Regions from separate parts of the Homo sapiens genome. Here region 2 is linked to region 1. Evidence: fine-mapped expression QTL. A gene starts in region 1. The other region holds a variant in brackets. All regions are shown on one strand. Distances are between the middles of the regions.

What was found.
Region 2: its variant is fine-mapped to the expression of ATG9A in transverse colon (GTEx, PIP 0.97).

Annotation. Positions count from the first base shown.
Region 1 is chr2:219,224,003-219,234,093 of GRCh38, forward strand. ATG9A (autophagy related 9A) reads right to left here and starts at 5,634. Exons shown (of 16, transcript NM_001077198.3): 1 at 5,533-5,634; 2 at 4,432-4,483; 3 at 3,920-4,051; 4 at 3,768-3,811; 5 at 2,867-2,931; 6 at 1,409-1,570; 7 at 1,069-1,210; 8 at 104-852; 9 at 1-20. The coding sequence starts at 4,022. It overlaps ANKZF1 (ankyrin repeat and zinc finger peptidyl tRNA hydrolase 1), which reads left to right and starts at 5,804. Exons shown (of 14, transcript NM_018089.3): 1 at 5,804-5,898; 2 at 6,226-6,403; 3 at 7,926-8,038; 4 at 8,258-8,360; 5 at 8,488-8,681; 6 at 9,077-9,189; 7 at 9,284-9,431; 8 at 9,713-9,941. The coding sequence starts at 6,256. RefSeq lists enhancers at 4,574-5,122, 5,123-5,670, 5,671-6,218, 5,889-5,998 and silencers at 5,349-5,398, 5,609-5,738.
Region 2 is chr2:219,320,649-219,330,752 of GRCh38, forward strand. It overlaps RESP18 (regulated endocrine specific protein 18), which reads right to left. Exons shown (of 6, transcript NM_001441699.1): 3 at 8,989-9,116; 4 at 8,515-8,604; 5 at 8,276-8,360; 6 at 6,759-6,915. The coding sequence ends at 6,869. Among named protein-coding and RNA genes, the nearest start is that of RESP18, 7.0 kb to the right of the region's middle. The variant G/A (reference allele first, on the strand shown) is at 5,358.

The sequences.
Region 1 (10,091 bases):
GCTGGTCCGGGATAAAGGACCTAGTGGGATCAGGATCATGGTGAGATGTATGCCTTTCCCAGGAATGCTAGCCGGCTTGCTCCCGCCTGTGGCCCTGGCCCACCTGCACACGGTCACGGTGACCCCCAGGAGTGTGACGGTGGTCAGCACATGTTCCACAGCCAACACATCTTCGTCATAAATGGTGAGGGCAATAAGCACAGCCAGGATGGAGCCAGCGAAGAAGGCTCCATTCTTGGCCAGCAGTGTCAAAAGAGGTGACAAGAAGCAATTCATGTACTTGGAGGCGGGCTTGTAGCCACGGTTGAGGCGGGACTGCAGCTCGTGCTCCAGCTCGTTGAAGTGGCGGAGGTAGCAGCGGCCATAGAGTGACCAGCAGCGTGCTCCCAGGGCCCCCGGCTCCCGCTTCAGCACCTCAGCATAGCTGAAGAAGGCATAGAGGATTTGCCATATGAGGATGAGGGGGCACAGCAGGAAGTTAGCGATGCCAATCCACAGGATGCGGTTGCTGAGGCGCTGGGCCAGCTCTAGCCGTTGCCCCCCACGTTTGTACTCGGCCTTGAGGCTCCATTCATTGAGAAACAGAGAGCCAGGTCCCCAGAAGAGGATCAGCTCAAAGTTGTACTTGAGACCACGGGTGAAGAAGACAGCTTCCCCGAGGCCAGGCAGGCGGAAGCGCAGAGGCAGGAGGGATTTGTTAACCAGTGCCACCATGTAGTTCTGGAAACGGAGGATGCGGTGGTAGATGTCCAGTTCTGTCAGCTCACGTTTGTGGATGCAGATCTGGTGCTCCTTCTGCGTCTGCACGATCCGGGCCTGCACTTCTTGCCACGTGCAATACGGAAGGGCAGACTGCGGGGTGGGGTGGGGAAGAGACAAGGTACGGAAGGTGGGGTTGTTGCCTCGACCCCTTTGCCCTATATTAGAAGTGAGATTCAGGGGTTGTGAGCTTAAGAGACAGTTCCTGATTTGTCAATGACAGATAAGGATAACTGATGCCCAGGAATACACCCACACCTCCCAATACGTCTTAGACTATGGGCTAACTGCCCAACTTCCCAGTCTTACCATAGGGATGCGCAGAGCGTGCAGGTAGAAGGAGTGGATCTCCCAGTAGCAGCAAATGTTATAGATGAACTTGATAAGCCGGTGGATCCAGAAGACACCAGCAATGACCAGGATGGTGATAAGGGAGCCATTTTCCTGAATCCTGGTGGGGAAAAAGAAGGGGAGGAGAGGTGGCCCTCGAGGAAGGAGTCTTGGCAGAGACGCTGCTATCCTGAAGTATTTTTGCTAGACCAAGCCTGAGTCAGTTCTGGAGTATGAGTTGCTGCCTCAGACTCCACTCTATTACCCACCTGCTAGCAGAACTCAAGGCTATGGTGTCCTCTTGACTTGCAGCCCTTACCTGGCACTACAGACTTGAGCAGGCAAAAAGGCGTCTGGCAGAGTGACCTTGACGGGTTCAGTAGGGTGAAGACTGTGGTTCACCATCTTGTTGGCAAATAGGATGTCATAGTCCACGCAGCTGACCAGGAAGGTAGTGAAGGCAACCACAAAGAGGAACTGCCTGGGGAGTTGGGAAGAAGGGGTGCAGTCTGAGAGCCAGAGAGGCTCCAGTGAAACCCAGTGGGAAGAGGAGAGTCTGGAGGTGGCAGAACAAGACTGGGAACTGGAAGGGCCTGGAGAACTCCCAGTGGGCCCTCTCTGCTCCTCAGCCCCACAGGACTGTCTCAGGCCCACTCTTTGCTCTTAGCCTCAGCTGCCACAGCTGCAGCCTACTTTCCTCACCTCATGGTAACCTCAGCCACCACTACTGGACTCTCGAAGGTTTCATCCTGTGGGTCTCTGATCTCCAGTCTCTGATTTCCTTTTGAGGTTGTAGTTAAAAGCCCTTGGGGGAGTTTTCTGATTGAGGGAGGGCTTCCTAACCCCTTCCCCTTCGGCAATGCTATATGGCTTCTCTCTCCCAGGAGGCTCTCTGCCTAGGAGCAGGCCATGGAACAGGCAAGGCAGAACAGAGGCTTTTCTCTGTGGCTGGCATCTCTGAGACCTCCTGACTGAACAATGTACGTTCCATTGGAGCGTTGAGATGATCAAGGTCAAGGCCTGCATTCTTTTTTTTTTTGAGAGAGTCTCACTCTGTCAGCCAGGCTGGAGTGCAGCGGCACAATCTCGGCTCACTGCAACCTCCACCTCCCAGGTTGAAGCGATTCTTGTGCCTCAGCCTCCCAAGTAGCTGGGATTACAGGCGTGTGCCACCACACCCAGCTAATTTTTGTATTTTTAGAGCCTCCTAAAGTGCTGGGATTACAGGTGTGAGCTGCCGTGCCCAACCAAGGCTTGGGTTCTTTTCATGGAAGAGATAAGGCTTGGAAAGCTTTTCTTGTAAGAAAGCTTGGCCGGGCGTGGTGGCTCATGCCTATAATCCCGGCACTTCGGGAGGTTGAGGCGGGCAGATAACCCGAGGTCAGGAGTTCGAGACCAGCCTGGCCAACTTGGTGAAATCCCATCTCTACTAAAAATACAAAAAAAATTAGCCGGGCATGGTGGCACATGCCTGTAGTCCCAGCTACTAAGGAGGCTGAGGCAGGAGAATCACTTGAACCTGGGAGGCAGAGGTTGCACCGAGCCAAGACCACTGCACTCCTGCCTGGGCGACAGAGTGAGACTCACTCCATCTCAAAAAAAAAGAAAGGTGAAGCTGTAAGTTTTGGTGCCACACCCAGTCCCTGAACTACAAAGGTTTACGGAGTTTTAGCCTAGGACTGAGTTGTACTGGCAGGTTGGGCCAAGTGTGAGTGCAAGGAGAGGAAAGACTAAGATGTATTCTTTCACCACATCATCTGTCCCTTCTTATACTTACATGAGCTCAAAGATCTCCCCGATGAGCATACATGTGAAGCCATTCTTCTGGTGCAGATTATAAACGTGTAATTGTTAAGAAAAAGTAGTCAGTAAAGAAAGCAGGTAAGAGCACAGACTTTGGTGTCAACACACTCAAGCTTAAGTCCTGGCTCTGTGACTTTCTAGCTGTGTGACTTTACCAAGTTACTTAACCTGTCTAAACTTTTGTCTGTCCATGGTGGTACATTAGGAATAAATAACACTTGTCTCATAGGAGTATTAGGTCTAAGATAATGCATGTAAAGCATTTAACACAGAGCTGACACAGAATGAGTCAAAAGACGTTACTTATTACGATTATTTACATCCCATCAAAAAGGAGGCTCGGCTGGGTGTGGTGGCTCACGCCTGTAATCCTAACACTTTGGGAGGGCAAGGCAGGTGGATCACTTGAGGTCAGGAGTTCGAGACCAGCCTTGCCACATGGTGAAACCCTGTCTCTATGAAAAATACAAAAAATAGCTGGGCATCGTGGCAGGTGCCTGTAATCCCAGCTACGTGGGAGACTGAGGCAGGAGAATCTCTTGAACCCAGGAGGTGGAGGTTGCAGTGTGTTGAGATCGCCCCTGGACTCTAGCAGCAACAGAGACAGACTCCATCTCAAACAAAAAAAAAAGGAGGCTCACCCTTAGAAAGGCTTCTACAAATTAACACCACAAAGTGGACACAGGCACACAGATCTTGGTAAATGTGGGCTATCATTACTTAACGATGATTTCACCAGCCTCTTTCAGCCTCAGGATGAGCTCCATTCCCGTTTCCAGGTATTAGAGTCAAACCTACCCCCACCTCCCACCAGAGCCCCGGCTTAGAGAGACATTAAAGGTCCCAGAGCTCCAACTCAGAAACACAAAGGATATTCGAGAGAAGAAGAGGTCAAGGTTTTCAATATGGTGCCAAGGTGCTGTGGGATAGGAACAGAGATGTCAGAGCCCTGGGAGAACACAAGCCCCTTGCTCTCTCCATGTTCTTCCATCAACTCTCCCTATGGCTGTCATATCCAAGAACTCACACTTGCTCCCCTCGGCGACGTGCACCAACAGGTCCTCCTCCCCTGGGGGTGAATCACTATAGGAGGCCTCTAGGCGCTGGTATTCAGTGTCAAACTGCGCCATCACCACCGCCCCCTGTCCACCTTGACCACCTGCCAATAAGGAGGAAGAAGAGACCCTGATTCAGTTCCAGCTGCTGCCCATGGGCTGCCCTGCCTACTGCCAAAAGGAGAAAGTACCCTTGGGCTTTGTCCACTACCAGCCTCCTTGGCTCAGAGGCAGAGGAGTAGTGACACAAGAAAGGCAGTAAGCTCAGGGCTGGGGGAGCCTTAACTCTGGCCAGTCTGGGTGTCTACTGCTGCTTTCCTGGCCCAAAGCCAGAATCTGTCCCTTTGTTGGGGGCTGTTTCATCTTCTATTTAACGGACAGAAGAGTCCCTCCCCCGCCCATCCTGGGAACCCTGGTCTCCCAAGAGACTAACAGTTTGGAAGCACTTCACAAACAAATGTTTGAGAAAAGCACATGGCCCTACCAGCTCCATGGACAGTATGTGCTCCTCTCCAGCCCTCGATGCTCTGCAGCTGCTGGAGGAGAAGATGTCAGGCCCCAGAGAGTGGGCAGTGGGGATAAAAAGGAACCCAACCCTCCCAGCCATCCACACCCCACCAAGAGGAGGCCAAGCATGGGGCAGGAAGGCTGCAGTGGGGAAGAAGCACCCTTCCAGCCCAGGACTACGAGCACTTCCTCTGGCTGTGCTAAACCGGGCCACTCTTCCAACTCCAGGGTCTCAAGAAGTAACTTAGGGACCCCATGGAGAATGAGTGGGTACAGACCTGAGGCCAGGGGCGCCTCTGGACTATTTCTCCATTGCCCTACCTTAGCCTCAGAAATGACATACTTCTCAGGGTCCACAAAACCTCAAGAGTCTTTCCTGAAGAGGACCTTTCTGGTCAACCCCTTCTCTTACTTCCCTAGCACCAAAGATCCAGCCGGTGAGCAAACCTTCTGGATGGGAAACCTTGACTGGGTCAGTGTAGACCCCCGATCCTAGGTGAATTTGTGGGTTCCCTAGGTCCTGTAAGCCAGGCATGGTCGAGGTGGTACTCACCTGTCCGTGCAGCCCCTGGGGGCCGTGGATCTTGGCCCAGCCTGGCCCCGGTGGGATTCCCTGGGCTAGTGAGAGCCCTGCCCCTCAGGGAAGTCACCACTCACAGGGTCAGTGTGGACCAGGGCCCGTGGAGCCCCGGCCGGCTGGGCCTGGGCTCAGGGGTTCCTGCGGATGTTGCAGGGATCGAGTCAGCCTTACAGCTGATAGCCCGGGTGGGTTGGCTTGCCTCCCCACACCCAGCCGCGGCGACCGTGGACCGGAGTCCACCTCGCCCCAGGGTCGCCCGGCCCCAGGCCAAGGGCTGGCAGCTCCCAACAGCGGACAACCTCGCGCGCGGCCCCGGCGCCCGCGCGCGCCCCCGTCTGCGCGCGCCAGCAATCAAAACATTCCGGCTGCGCGCCCCCGCCCCGCCGGCGGCGCCCCTTCCTCCGTTACCCGCCGCGAGCTCACTTAGGGCTCCGCAGGCACCCCTGGGCAAGGCCAGACACGGGGCCTGGGATTCCAATAACCGGTCTCACGTCTTACCTCAGGAACAGCGACCCGGGTGATTCCAGAGGCTCCGCCGGCTCCGCTCGGCTCGGCTCGGCTCGGCGCGACCCGCGGCGCTAGGCCGGGTGTCTGCCACTCACTGTCACCCGCAGCCAGGCTGGCCAATAAGCACGGGGGGCGGAGACACAACGGCCAATTCTCGGCTTCAGGGACGGGACTAAAGTCTCGAGGCGGGTCTTGGACAGTCAGCGGCCCAATAGTGTGCTCTACGTGGGGCGGGGCTCAGGTGCGGACGCCGCCGGTTGTCCTCTTCGCTGCTCCGTAGTGACGGGGATTGTTGTGTTGCAGAAATCCGGCAATCGACCTGAGGACTTGCGAGCCGCTCAGCTCCCGGGACGTTTGGTGCGTCTTCTAAGGGCGTGGGCGAGTTTACGCGGGCCAGTTGTTGCTGGTCGCATGGGTAACGAAGAAAGTTCGGCTAGGCAAGCTCAGTGATTTTTAACTCTGTTGGACTCGATTTGGGAGCCGAATGCCTATTTCATTCTTTTGTGGGCTGAGACTGGGGGTTTGAGAAAGTGGACGGGGGCCAAGGTATTCATCTCACAGTTGGTAGCAGGATGAGAGACGAGAAGTCTTGCGGTGCAGGAGAAACCAAGTCAGGCAGGCAGGAGACGCAGCAGTAGGATCTCGTTTGCAGGAGCCCTGTTTCTTACACGCTTTCTACTCCAGGAGCTGCTGCTAAATAATTTCTGCTCAGCCATGTCGCCGGCTCCAGATGCAGCCCCGGCTCCTGCGTCGATCTCCCTGTTTGACCTCAGCGCGGATGCTCCGGTCTTTCAGGGCCTGAGCCTGGTGAGCCACGCGCCTGGGGAGGCTCTGGCCCGGGCTCCGCGTACTTCCTGTTCAGGTATCCTGGAAGGTTTCGTGTGAAACGTGACAGGGCTCCTTACAGCGTATTGCCCGTTCAGGGAACACATTCTTATTGGTATTCCCGAGCTTAGGAGGCCAATTGATTTATCTTTCTGCTTGATTAAATTCACTTAATCTCTGGGTAATGTCCAGCACAGCCCTTGTTTTCAAACAAGTCTTTTTGCCATTGCATGTATCTCCTCACGTTAACACCATTCCCTTCAAAAACACTTTAAACTTTGTAGAGATAAAATTCTCAGATGTATTCCACATTTAACCAGGCCCCACTCAAATTATTCCTTTTTGCTGAATATGAAACAATTTATTATTTGTTTCGTATAGCTTTATTTTTTGAGAGTCTCGCTCTGTCGCCCAGGCTAAAGTGCAGTGGCACGATCTCCACCCACTGCAATCTCCGTCTCCCGGGTTCAAGTGATTCTCCTGCCTCAGCCTCCCGAGTAGCTGGGACTACAGGCCCGCACCACCATGCCCGGCTAATTATTGTATTTTTAGTAGAGACGGGGTTTCACCATGTTGGCCAGGCTGGTCTCAAACTCCTGGCCTCAAGTGATCCGCCTGGGTCAGCCTCCCAAAGTGCTGAGATTACAGGCATGAGCCACCGTGTCGGTCCTGTTTTGTGTAACTTTAGTTTGGCTACATCTTTTCTTGCACCTCTCCTTAGACAAACTGTACACTAATTGGAAATGTAAACTTTAAAAAGCATTTGGGAAGTAGTTTTTGTGCAGTGAAAAATAATTTTAAACTGAACAGAAATTATTTTCTTTAGGATTCACCTAAACAATCTGTTTGGCTAATTTAAATTAGACAAGACTCAAACTCAGCCAGTGGGGAGGACTTGCAGACGCTGGATCTCGGGAGAGGGCTACGTTGGAGAAGTTTAACCGACCCCAAGGCTTTTACCCTCATCGGATTCTTTTCCAGAATGCCCAGGGCCAGTTTTTATTTACATTCGTTTTATTTATTTTATTTTTCTTCATCTTTTTTGAGACAGAGTCTCGTTCTGTTGCCCAGGCTGGAGTGCAGTGGTGTGATCTCGGCTCACTGCAAGCTCCGCCTCCCCGGTTCATGCCGTTCTCCTGCCTCAGCCTCCCAAGTAGCTGGGACTACAGGCATCCGCCACCACACCCGGTTAATTTTTTGTATTTTTAGTAGAGACGGGGTTTCACCGTGTTAGCCAGGATGGTCTTGATCTCCTGACTTCATGATCCGTCTGCCTTGGCCTCCCAAAGTGCTGGGATTACAAGCGTGAGCCGCTGCACCTGGCCAATTTTATTTTATTTACATTCATTTTACGTACATGTTTTCAGAAGCATGTTTATTGCATTAAGTGATTGCTGTACTGTTTATTTCATGACTATTAGAGTGTAAATTCCTTGAAGGCAGTATCATGCCATCTCTTTTGTATCCTCCTCTGCTTTGTATATCACACTCTGAATATAATTCTTGTCACTGTGGATTTGGGCTCCCTTTCTATGTCCAATTCCTCTTCCCTTATTTAGGCTCAGGGGAGAGAGAAAGCCCAGAAAGAAAGCTACTCCAGGGTCCTATGGATATTTCAGAGAAGTTATTTTGTTCAACTTGTGACCAGACCTTCCAGAACCACCAAGAACAGGTAATAGGTCAGGTGCAGAGCTAGATGTTAGAAGCAAAAGTGTAATGGTGGGTGGGGAGAGGTAGACATTTGATTTGTCTTAATAAAGGTCCATGCTTTGACTGAGGCAGTTGGTGTTACCTGGTTGTACTTCCTAGAATACTATAACTGGTCTTGGCCAGTACAAGGCCAGGCTGGGGCATATTTCCACCTTTATCTCACTCTTTGTCTTTGTACTAGAGGGAACATTATAAGCTTGACTGGCATCGGTTTAACCTAAAGCAACGTCTCAAGGACAAGCCTCTCCTGTCTGCCCTGGACTTTGAAAAGCAGAGCTCCACAGGTGATGAGTGGTAGGGGGACCTATGTAGGAGTAGGACATGGAGGTATAAGAAAGCACTAGTTTAGAGTTTGAGGAAAGAACAAAAATGGGGTACCAAACTTGTGTATCTCATATTGTCTGTCTTCAGGAGATCTTTCCAGCATCTCGGGATCAGAAGACTCAGACTCAGCCAGTGAGGAGGACTTGCAGACACTGGATCGGGAGAGGGCTACATTTGAGAAGTTGAGCCGACCCCCAGGCTTTTACCCTCATCGAGTTCTTTTCCAGAATGCCCAGGGCCAGTTTCTTTATGCCTACCGCTGTGTCCTAGGCCCTCATCAGGCAAGTGACAGTACAGGTTGCATGGCTAACCCCAGCCTTTTGTACACCCAGCCTAGATTTCCCTTAGCCTAGTGCATTTCTCCCTGCTTCTCTTCCTTCCTGTTGGTTGTGGGTATCACGCTTGACAACATAGTCTTGAATTGAAACTGGCCTGAATTGTGGAAGGGTTAAGTGTAATGGAATTAAGTTTGGAAACAAACCAATTTAGGTTTGAATTGTGATTCTACCACTTCATCTTGACTGCCTCGCCAAGCCTCAAATTTCCTTGTTTGTCAAATGGAAACAAGCCTCAGGGTGGTAATATTAAATGAGATAATGTTTGTGAAAATTGGCCCTTAGTTTCTTGCTCTCAGTGAATGCAACAGATATGTTTCTGATGCTTCTCTGTCATCAAGGATCCCCCAGAAGAGGCAGAACTGCTGCTACAGAACCTGCAAAGTAGAGGTCCCAGAGACTGCGTGGTGCTCATGGCTGCAGCTGGGCACTTTGCTGGTGCTATATTTCAAGGGTGAGAGGGTGCTGCATGGGGGTAAGGATGGAGTGGATCCTGTTAGCCAGGGAGCACCAGCTGGTCTCCAGTACTGAGTCTGTGCTGTCTACAGAAGAGAAGTGGTGACACACAAAACTTTTCACCGCTATACGGTTCGGGCCAAGCGGGGCACAGCCCAGGGGCTTCGGGATGCCCGAGGTGGGCCATCACACTCTGCTGGAGCCAACCTGAGGCGCTACAATGAAGCCACACTATATAAGGTGAGTTAAGCCTTTTAGATCTGGTGGTACTGATCCATACTTTTTTTGCATCTCTGTTCAACTCACTGTTAAGTAGGGAGGTTTTTGACTCATATCCTTCCAATTTTCATTATAGGTAGACAAAGGTAGATGAGGGATTCCCCAGGAGCCTTAGTCCTCTATTCTTTCTCCGTGTTATCCTCTACTTTCCACCCCTTGCACTTCTGTGGGCCATTTTTTTTAGTTGGAGATTTATAAATAGCAAGTGAAGGTATGCAGGACTGAGTTACTCTCTTCTCTAGGATGTTCGTGACCTGCTGGCAGGGCCAAGCTGGGCTAAGGCGCTGGAGGAGGCTGGTACAATACTGTTGCGTGCTCCCCGCTCTGGCCGGTCTTTGTTCTTTGGAGGCAAGGGAGCACCCCTGCAAAGGGGGGATCCCCGACTTTGGGATATCCCCCTCGCCACCCGCAGACCCACCTTCCAAGAGCTACAGCGTGTGCTCCATAAGCTGACCACTTTGCATGTCTATGGTGAGCCTTTGCTCCAGATCCCAATTCCCTAGACCTTCCTGTTCTCTCCAACCTAAGCCTCCATTCTCATTGGTATATCCAGAGGATTTTCTAAGCCTTGGACTGCAGCCCAGCTACATCTGCATTGAGAGAAACCTGCGCTAGCTTCTC
Region 2 (10,104 bases), 97 kb after region 1:
GCCACCACGCCTGGATAATTTTGTATTTTTAGTAGAGACAGGGTTTCTCCATGTTGGTCAGGCTGGTCTTGAACTCCTGACCTCAGGTGATCTGCATGCCTTGGCCTCCCAAAGTGCTGGGATTATAGGTGTGAGCCACCATGCCCAGCCTAATTTTTCTATTTTTTAAATAGAGATGGGGGTTTCACCGTGTTGGCCAGGCTGGTCTCGAACTCCTGACCTCAGGTGGTCCACCCGCCTTGGCCTTCCAGAGTGTTGGGATTACAGGCATACGCCACCATGCCTGGACACTGCACTCCAGCGTGGGCAACAGAGCTAGACTCCATCTCAAAAAAAAAAAAAACTTTGTGGTTTCTGGTTTCCTGTCAAAAATTATAGTTTGGTCTTTGTAGGTTTGAACATAGCAAGCACAGATGTTTTATGTTGGAACCAATGTTTTTCATTGAAATCACTGTGAGTCTGTTTTTGTTATCTATTGTGCAGAGCATAGTATTTGGAAAATTATCTGTAGAAATAATTTAAAGTTTTGATGGATTTTCATTTATGTCTGCAGGTGCCTGAAAGCACTAGCAATCTAATATAACCTTAATCCAATTTCACAGCCATACTGCAGACTGAGCAAGGGTTACTACTTATTTATTTATTTATTTATTTATTTATTTATTTATTTATTTATTTTTGAGACAGAGTTTCACTCTTGTTGCCCAGGCTGGAGTGCAATGGCACGATCTCAGCTTACTGCAACCTCCACCTCCTGGGTTCAAGTGATTCTTCTGCCTCAGCCTCCCAGAGTAGCTGGGATTACAGGCATGAACCACCATGCCCAGCTAATTTTACTTTTTTATCTTTATGCTTGGAGTTTGTTTCTTGTTCCCAGGCCAAAACACGGAGAAGTTTACTAGAATTCTTCCTTTCACAAGCCCTGGATTCTAACATCTACTCCTCTAGCTCCACAGGCTGTCTAAATCAGTCTTTTCTTGGCTTTTTCCCCCCACTGCCGAGAGAGGGTCTTGCTCTGTCACCCAGGCTGGAGTGCAGTGGTGCAACCTTGGCTTTCTTGCAGGCTTGACCTACCAGGCTCAATCAGTGTTCCTGCCTCAGCCTCTCAAGTAGCTAAGACTACCAGTGTGTGCTGCCCTGCCCCACTAATTTTATTTTTTGTTAAGACGAGGTCTCACTGCATTGCCCGGGCTGGTCATCTACCTCCTAAGAATGGAAAATTTCTCCATTGCAACCCTGAACATTGGATCTTCTATCTCTGGATTCTGTTCCTTTCTTGGATCTTCTTCTGTGTCAGTTTCTCCTCACTCTTGCTCGCTCCTTGATGGTTTAAAAAATATTTTGGTAATTTTTCACCCACATTTTTTTTTGAGGCAGGATTTCACCCTGTTGCCCAGGCTGGAATGCAGTGCTGTAATTTCAGCTCACTGCAACCTTGAACTCCTGGGCTCAGGTAATTCTTACTTCAACCTCCCAAGTAGCTAGGACTACAGGCACGCACCACCACGCCTAGCTAATTTTTACATATTTTTTTGAAATGTGATTTTGCTATGTTTCCCAGGCTGGTCTCAAACTCCTGAGCTCAAGCAATCTGCCTGCCTCGGGCTCCCAAATTGCTGGGATTACAGGTGTAAGCCACCTTTCCTGGCCTGAGTTATCTTTTAACTCCAGCCATTGCTGCAGCCACCTGCACTAAATCATTTGACACCACCTGCCTCACCTGCACTAAATATCTCTTGTTTTTGATTTGAGTCTGCTCTGCTACAACAGCATTAGGCACTCCTGGGAATCTGTTCAGTCATTCTCATCCATGAAAAACCTGGAAGTATGAGGAAATTAACATCCCATAGGTCAACTCTTGATCCAATGGCGGATGGAAACTAGATAAATACTTCTCTTTCCGAAGGACAATTGTAGGGTATATCTTGTACCTGATGCTTAAAGAGTCCCCAGAAGAACTGATTCCCAGTGGCCTACAACTCATTCTTGCACCCTTAAATTAGCTTTCCAAGCCCTCCTGTTTCGCTCTTTTCATTCTTCCACTCTTGATCTTGTGATATCTTCCCAAACTAAACAACCTCTATACAAGCCCTTATTTTGCAGTTTGACTTTGGGAGGAATCAGTCTAAGACAAGTTGTCTTCAGCAAGGGCCTGAGGAGTATGAGCTTGAGGTAATGACCTAGTGCATTATTACCAGAAGCAGAAATTGAGGAAAAAATAAATATGGGAGATATAACAACATGTGTTGATGAAAATGATCAGACATCCAAAAGGCTTGAGGTAATGACCTAGTGCATCATTACCAGAAGCAGAAATTCAGGAAAAAATAAATATAAAAGATATTACAGCATGTGTTGACAAAAATGATGAGACATCCAAAGAAAAGGTAATGAAGTAGGAAAGAGACCGGAGGACACAACTGTGTGATGTCCTTAAATGAGCTCCCAGCTTTAACTCTTAAGAGTAAATCAATTTTCCTTCTCCAACTAATTCTCCAGATATTCGTATTCTGTGAATGGCACTTTTATTCCATCAGTCACAAAATCTCTAAATTCAGGTAAGCCTCCTTTCTCAACAAAGCCCAGTCATCTGTAGTAGTTTGCTAGGGCTGCTGTAACAAAGTACCATAGACTGGGTGGCTTAAACAACAGAAATTTATGGTCTCACAGCTCTGGAGGCTAGAAATCTGAAACCAAGCTGTTGGCAGGGTTGATACCCTCTGAGAGCTGTGAGGGAGAATCTGTTTCAGAACTCTCTCCTTGCCTTGTAGATGGCTTCCATCTCCCTTTATCTTTTCACATCATCGTTGCTCTAGCTATGGCTGTCTTCAAATCCTGCCCCTGCTTTTTTTGAGATTGGGTCTCCCTCTGCTGCCTAGGATGGTCTCAAACTCCTGTGCTCAAGCGATTATCTAGCCTCAGCCTTTGAGTAGCTGGGACTACAAGCACTGGCCACTGTGTATTTCCTCTTTTTATAAGGATACCGTGATTGGTATTAGAGTCCGTCCTAATGACCTCATCTTAACCAACCACATCTGCAACAACCCTATTTCCAAATAACATCACATTTGGAAGTACTGGGGATTAGGACTTCAACATATGATTTTTTTTTTTTTTTTTTTTTTTTTTGGTGGGGGGACAGAATTCAACCTGTAACAGTTGCAAAGGCTTATTAACTCATCCTTCAAAATATCTCTCATACATGTCCTCTTTCAGTCCATTCAGGTCGTGTATGGGACACCCCCACCATTGCAACAGTCTTTCTAAAATGTTTCCACTTTCTCCTGCTCTCTAATCCATCCTTAAACAGAAATGTAAGGCTATGCTTAAGCACAACTTTCATTGTGTTCTCTTGCTCAAAAACATTTAGTGTCTCCTCATTACCTATCAGATACTACCCAAATCAGATAACCTGGTCCTCTGCAATAGGAACTGAACCTGCCTTCCTTTCTAAAAACTCCCCATCTTTCCTACCCATTCACCATGTCCCAGAATTATCAGATTATTTAATGTCCCCTATAGGTTTTATTTTTCCAGCCTCTGCAACTTTGCTCTGGGCATGGGGGTGATGTTACGAGGGTCAGGGAATGGACCACAGAGGAGAATTTAGATTTTTCAGGTAAGACTGACAAGGTGTGCTGGGGATGGGACACTTATATGCAGAGGGAACTGCTGATACAAGGGCCCAGGAGCATAAAACAGCTGGGTATGTTTGGGGAAATGCAAATAGGGCTGAATTGCTGGTGCACATAGGACAGCAGGATGGGGGAAACACTGCAGTTTTGAAGAGGTTGGTGAGACAAGAACTTGAATGCTCTGTGGGCCAGATAAATTGCTTAGATTCTGCCCTATACCCAGGCAGTTAGTCAATGATTTATGACCAAATCCATGCAGTGGATACTCTGACTTGTTCACAACTGTATCCCCAGGGCCTAGAAGAGTGTCTGGCACATAGTAGGCTTGGTCTGGGTGGACCCAAGAGCAGACTGAGACAAGAACTTGGGCTGGGCATGGTGACTCATGCTGGTAATCCCAGCACTTTGGGAGGCCAAGGCAGGAGGATTGCTTGAGCTCAAGAGTTTGGGACCAGCCTGGGGAACATAGTGAGACCTTGTCTCTACTAAAAAACAAAAAAAAATTAGCCAGGTGTGGTGGTGATCATCTGTAGTACCAGCTACTCAGGTTCAAGTGAGGTGGAGGAATTGGATTCTTCCAATTTTTCACAGCAGCCTCAGTCTCTCGGGCTCAAGTGAGGTGGAAGAATCCCAAGAGACTGAGGCTGCTGTGAGCTATGGTTGCACTACTGTACTCCAGCCTGGGTGACAGAGCGAGATCTGGGTCTCAAAAATGAATGAATGAATAATTTGGGTGCAGGTGGTTCCTGTGGGAGATGATTCCAGAAATCACAGATGAAGGACAGGGAAAGTAAGCCAAAGAAGGAAGAAAAGCCAATAATAAGTGTGTTGCTGAACAGGTTACCACTGTGGGCGACTAGGCTGAATCTCACTAGGCACCCTCTGAAGAATCATACTGAACATTTCTCACTAAGGGCTGGTGGAATCTGGGATATTTTTGCACTAAATTTGGCCCTTAACTGATTGAGAGTTGCCTCTAGGGGCATTACCTCCCAGGTGCTTCAGGGCTGCCTGGGGCACAGCTGGGCAGTCCCTTGGCATTCCAGAAAGCCTGCAGGATGAGAAGCAGAATCCCGGGGCATGAGGTGGGAAGGTTGACAGGTTCAAGAACTGTCCACCTGCAGCTGCAGGCAAATGGAGATGCAGGCCAGGAGATACGGGATGGGGCATCCACTGCATTCACTCCTTATAGATAACTGAATGACGCTATGTTATATGTGGCTTGCTTTCTTGACTTTTTTTTTTTAAACAGCCTCACTCTGTCACCCAGACTGGAGTGTAGTGGCACAATGATGGCTCACTGCAGCCTCAACCTCCTGGGCTCAAGTGATTCTCCCACCTCAGCCTCCCAGGTAGCTGGAACTACAGGTGCATGCCACCATGCCCAGCTAATTTTTGTATTTTTGTGGAGATGGGTTTTTGCCGTGTTGCCCAGGCTGGTCTCAAACTAGGTGGGCTCAAGTGATCTGCCTGCCTCAGCCTCCCAAAGTGCTGGGATTATGGGAATAAGCCACCGCACCCCACCCTGACTACTCTTAAAGGTCTTTGAGGGCAGGAACCAAATATGTGACTCAGCATAAAGGCCAGGCACAGTGAAGCACATGATTACATACATGTTTGAAAATGAGTGAGAAAGGAAGGCTTAAGAAGAAAAGAAGGATGAGTGGCAGGGGTTAATTGATTTGATGAGAACTAGGTACGAATGAGTATGACTGATCTAAC[G/A]TTGGCTTTAGCTACGTTCTTGAACATAACAAGAAGGGAAAGGGCAACCACAGTAGCATGACTGAGAATCTGGATCATTAAGAACTAGTCGTGTAGTTTCTCTGGGTTGTTTAAATGGGGAAGATGTGGTGTGGCCAAGTTCCAATTCCTTAGAGAAACCCAGTTTGTTGTTGTTTTTGGTTTATTTTTTTGAGATGGAGTCTCACTGTTGACCAGGCTGCAGTGCAATAGTGTGATCTTGGCTCACTGCAACTCTGCCTCCCAGGTTCAAGCGATTCTCCTACCTCAGCCTCCTGAGTAGCGCGCCACCATGCCCGGCTAATTTTTGTTTGTTTGTTTGTTTATGATGGAATCTTGCTCTGTTGCCCAGGCTGGAGTGCAAGGGCGTGATCTCAGCTCACTGCAACCTCCACCTCCTGGGTGCAAGTGATTCTCCTGCCTCAGCCTCCTGAGTAGCTGGGATAGCAGGTGTGCACCACTACGCCCAGCTAATTTTTGTATTTTTAGTAGAGATGGGATTTCACCATGTTGGCCAGGCTGGTCTCGAACTCCTGAACTCAGGTGATCCCCTTGCCCTGCCTCCCAAAGTGTGGGATTATAGGCATGAGCCACCGTGCCCAGCCTAATTTTTGTATTTTTAGTAGAGATAGGGTCTTACCATGTTGGCCAGGCTGGTCTTGAACTCCTGATCTCAAATGATCCACCCGCCTTGGCCTCCCAAAGTGCTGGGATTACAGGTGTAAGCCACTGTGCACAGCCAAGAAACCCAGTCTTGATACCTGCCCATTTGCTTACACCTGTGAGCCTCCAACGTGTGTGAAAGTGCTTCAAAATGTATAAAGCTCTGCAAATAGGACATTCTAGTGTTTGGTTGTTGGCTGAACATAGGTGGTGAGATTACCAACTCCCTTTTAAGATTTTAAGCTACCAGGAGCAAACTAGCAAGAATGATCAGAATGTCCAGTGTGCGTACACTCTGACCTCAGCACTGATCTGTTGGTCCTTGTAGACAGGATGGGTGGGAAAGCCTGGTAGGGGCTATAATGCTGGAGGTGGGGACCCTCAAAAAACAGCAGGGTCCAGGCCTGTCTGGCATGAGGGGTAAAAGAAATGAATATGGAGTCCACCTCCCCGTAACGTGAAAGGATGGGCAACTAGACCACACAGTGTGGCTGGGATGTGGCTGGGTTAGGGGGGCTGCCATTCCAGCTGTGGTCTCACTCTCACTTTCCCCACTCCGGGAATTATCAGTGGAAGGAAAACAAGACAGAAGCCAGTCTTCCATCAGCCAAGAGTTGTGCTCCCCTCATCCCCACCCCATGTTTTGGTCCCACCTCCCTCTGTTTGGAGGCTCTGGCCAAGTTCAACCCCCACCCATCTTGCCTCAAGACAAACTCAGTGTTTGCATGAGAGTCTACTTTAATGATTCAAATCTGGGTCATCCAAGAACTGCTCCTCTGAAGGGCAATGGGAAGGGTGCTGGGGCAGGGAGGCTTCACATGAGGTCTCAATCAGCCACAGGGTTGCGGCCCACAGTAGGAAGTGGCCCAGAGAAGCCCTAAAACAAGAAGAAACAAGGGAGCTAGAGTCAGGATGTGAGACAGTGGCTCCTCCCTCATCTGCCCTCCTTCCACAAATACTGTAGTAACAGCCTGATTTGAGTAACCCTTCAGCATGGTGACAGCTCACCAACTGAGAGCCTGTCCCCTTGGGTCTCACATGTAGCCCTGTCTCTCCATGGTTTGCCCTTAAGCTTAGGTCTGGAGAAGAATGGCAGCTTCTTGTTTGCATTATTCCTGGGAGCACCAGGGCAACCAGTCCCCCACAGGTAGGTCTCTGTCACTTCTGTCACTGAGCTCTGATTATGTTGCCCCAGCAACCAATCCAGGCTTAGGAAGCCCAGCTGCCACATTATGGAAGTAGGAATCTGTTTCCTTGGAGAGCATGAGGAGCTGGAACCCCCTGTGGTGCAGGTTGCCTTTAGATGGAGGGTGCAGCCAGCCGGGGGTGCCCTGCTTCACTGCCACCACCCAAATTCAAGCCACCTCGGTCTCCCTGGACCAGGATGAGCCCCTCCTTACAGACCTCTCAGTTTTCACTTTTGCTCTCCTTACAGTTCATTCCCCAACATCACCAGGGTGGCCTTTTAAAATCATATCACGTTGTGACATTCCTTTCCTTAAAATTTCCCAGTTAAATTCCCACTGCACTTAGAATGAAATTCAAACCTTTTGCTATGATCTGTGAGCCCCTGTGTGGTCAGTCCTGGGCCTAATTCTCCACCCTCATCTTTGACCACTGACTTTTCTGTCTGTTCCTTAACATGACATGGTATGGGTGTCTCAGGACATTCGTAGTGGCAATGCTGTCTGCCTCAGATGCCCTTCCTTTACATCTTCCTCTGGTTGCCACCTTATAATTTAGGTCTTAGTCCAAAAAAAAAAAAACCTCTTTTTTCAGTGTGGAGGAGTCTGATGTTTGGAATGGCCAAATCCCACTGCAGTTCTTGAGTGGAAGGGCAGGGACTATGCAGGGGGAAAGAGCTGGAAATCAGGAGACCTGGGTCCAGTCTTGGCTCTGCCACAAACCCATGGTGTTGCCTTGAGTATGTCCCATGGCCTGGGCCCCAATTTCTCATCTATAAAGATGGATGGGAGTACTAGATGGGCGGTTTCCATTCTGGATTCTGAAGAGTTCAAAGATCCCAAGGAGATGTCTCAGAGCCTTGCCTGGGTGACTTGCCCAGGCCATAGAGTAGAGCAAGGGGGAGGCTGAATGTGAGGGTCTCTGAGCTGCACCTCCCATTCATCAAGGGAGTGTTGCTATCATGTGCTATATACAAGGGCATATATGGCAAAAAGGACGTTTAATTTTGAAAACTCTGCTGTTTCAATGCCTATTTTAAACTCAATACTTACGCATGATCTTATAGATAATTTCTTCCTTAGAGGGTCCCGGCGCCTGCATCATGTCCAGCCCCCCATATGAACACCTATAGGTAATCTGAGAGATACAGGAAATTAGAAGTACCTTTGATTAGGAATGGAAAAATCTTTTCTGCAGCGATCTGCCCTCACCTCAATGCCCATTCCCTTCTTCCTATCTGCCTCCCTCATTTAAACAGGTCCAACCTCCCTAGAAAAAGTGAGCCCCTCACCTTGACAGGGTTGGCCACCTCTTGTTTCAGGGCCTTAGAAACCACTTCGGAGGTAAAGCACTGATCCCTGTTCACCTTGGCCAGGGGGCTCTGTGAGGAGGGAAACCAGGAGTCAAGGAGGAGGCAGAAAAGGGTGAGAGGGCCCCACAGGAAAAGCAATTGGATACAAAGTCAGGGATTCACAATTCTTGAGAAGATACGTGAGTCTCACTGGGGAATAGGAGTTGAAGTTTCTCCTCTTGCTAGAAGAGACAGGGAATGACAAATTGGACCTAGGCTTGCCACACCCACCTCCCCTCCCTTTGCAGATATCACTAATGGATCATGAAATTCTTCTCTGCTGATTCCAAACAGGACCTCTGAATTCTCACAGTGCTCCTGGCAACTTCTACCTGCAGTTTTAGCACACATTCCTTCCCTGTTCCGTCTGTCTGCCAGAATGCTTGGAATGACCACAGGCCTCATGCACCTCACCTCAGTGGTTTTAGTGGGGAAAAGTGCCTTCCCATCCTTCAGGCATGGTTCTTGGGGATGCAGTCTGCTGGCATGCTCCATCTTTTGGATCATTGCATCCTGGGTGATGTCATCCTTCCAGAACAGACCTGCAGGATGAAAGGATGGGGGGTGAGTTGACACCTGAGACACTCGGATCCACTCCAGGGATCAGAGTAACCTTTCTCTCAAGTATATATTAGATTACATTTTACAGAGAATTAAACAAGATGATGTATTAAAGTTGCTTAGCATAGTGCCTAGCATATAATATTCAAATTAGGATTATGATTACAGTCTCTTTGCTGGTTCATTTGATGCTATTGTGAGGATTAAATGAGGTTAGGAATATAAAGAGTGCTTAGAAAATGCTAAGGCAGTGATTATCAAACTTTAGCATGTGCATCAGAATCTCCTGCAAGGTCTGTTAAAATACAGACTGCTGTTTCCCACCCCTAGGGCTTCTGATGCAGTAGGTCTGTGGTGAAGTTCAAAAATTCCCATTTCTAACAAGTTCCCTGGCGAGGTTGATGCTGCCAGTCCAGGGGTGCACTTTGAGAACTACTGCTCTAAGGCACTATGCACATATTAGTGTTAGCAGCAGTAATATGAACTCAAGGAAGATTTCCTAGCTGACTGTCTCCTCCCCAACATTCATGAAACTCTGCTGTGAGACAGGGTCAGCCACATGTTGCCAATGGACTCTCCACTCCCTTTCATTCCTCCCATCTGTTTGTCATACAATTTCCTACTCAGAGGCTGAAGTGTGTGTTTTCCTGTCTGAGAACTTGAAGAGTCCTGGCTTTGGAAAAGCTCATATAGTGCTGGGGTTGGGGGGAGACTAGTCTCAAGGAGTTGGATGCTGGCCGTTTTCAGTTTTGTTTTTTTTTTTCCCTAGAAGCCTTTACTGGGCTCTTCCAAGGTGTTCTAGTGCAAATAGTCCACCCATCCAGATCCCACTCCTACTCCTGTCTCATCCCCATGGGGGTAAATGTGACAAAGTTTTAAGTAGAGACATTTGGGGAACAGAAAGCCTACCCTCAGGTCGGATAGCCCCTCTTCCCCCCTCCCCATCTCTAACCAGGCCCCAACCTCTGT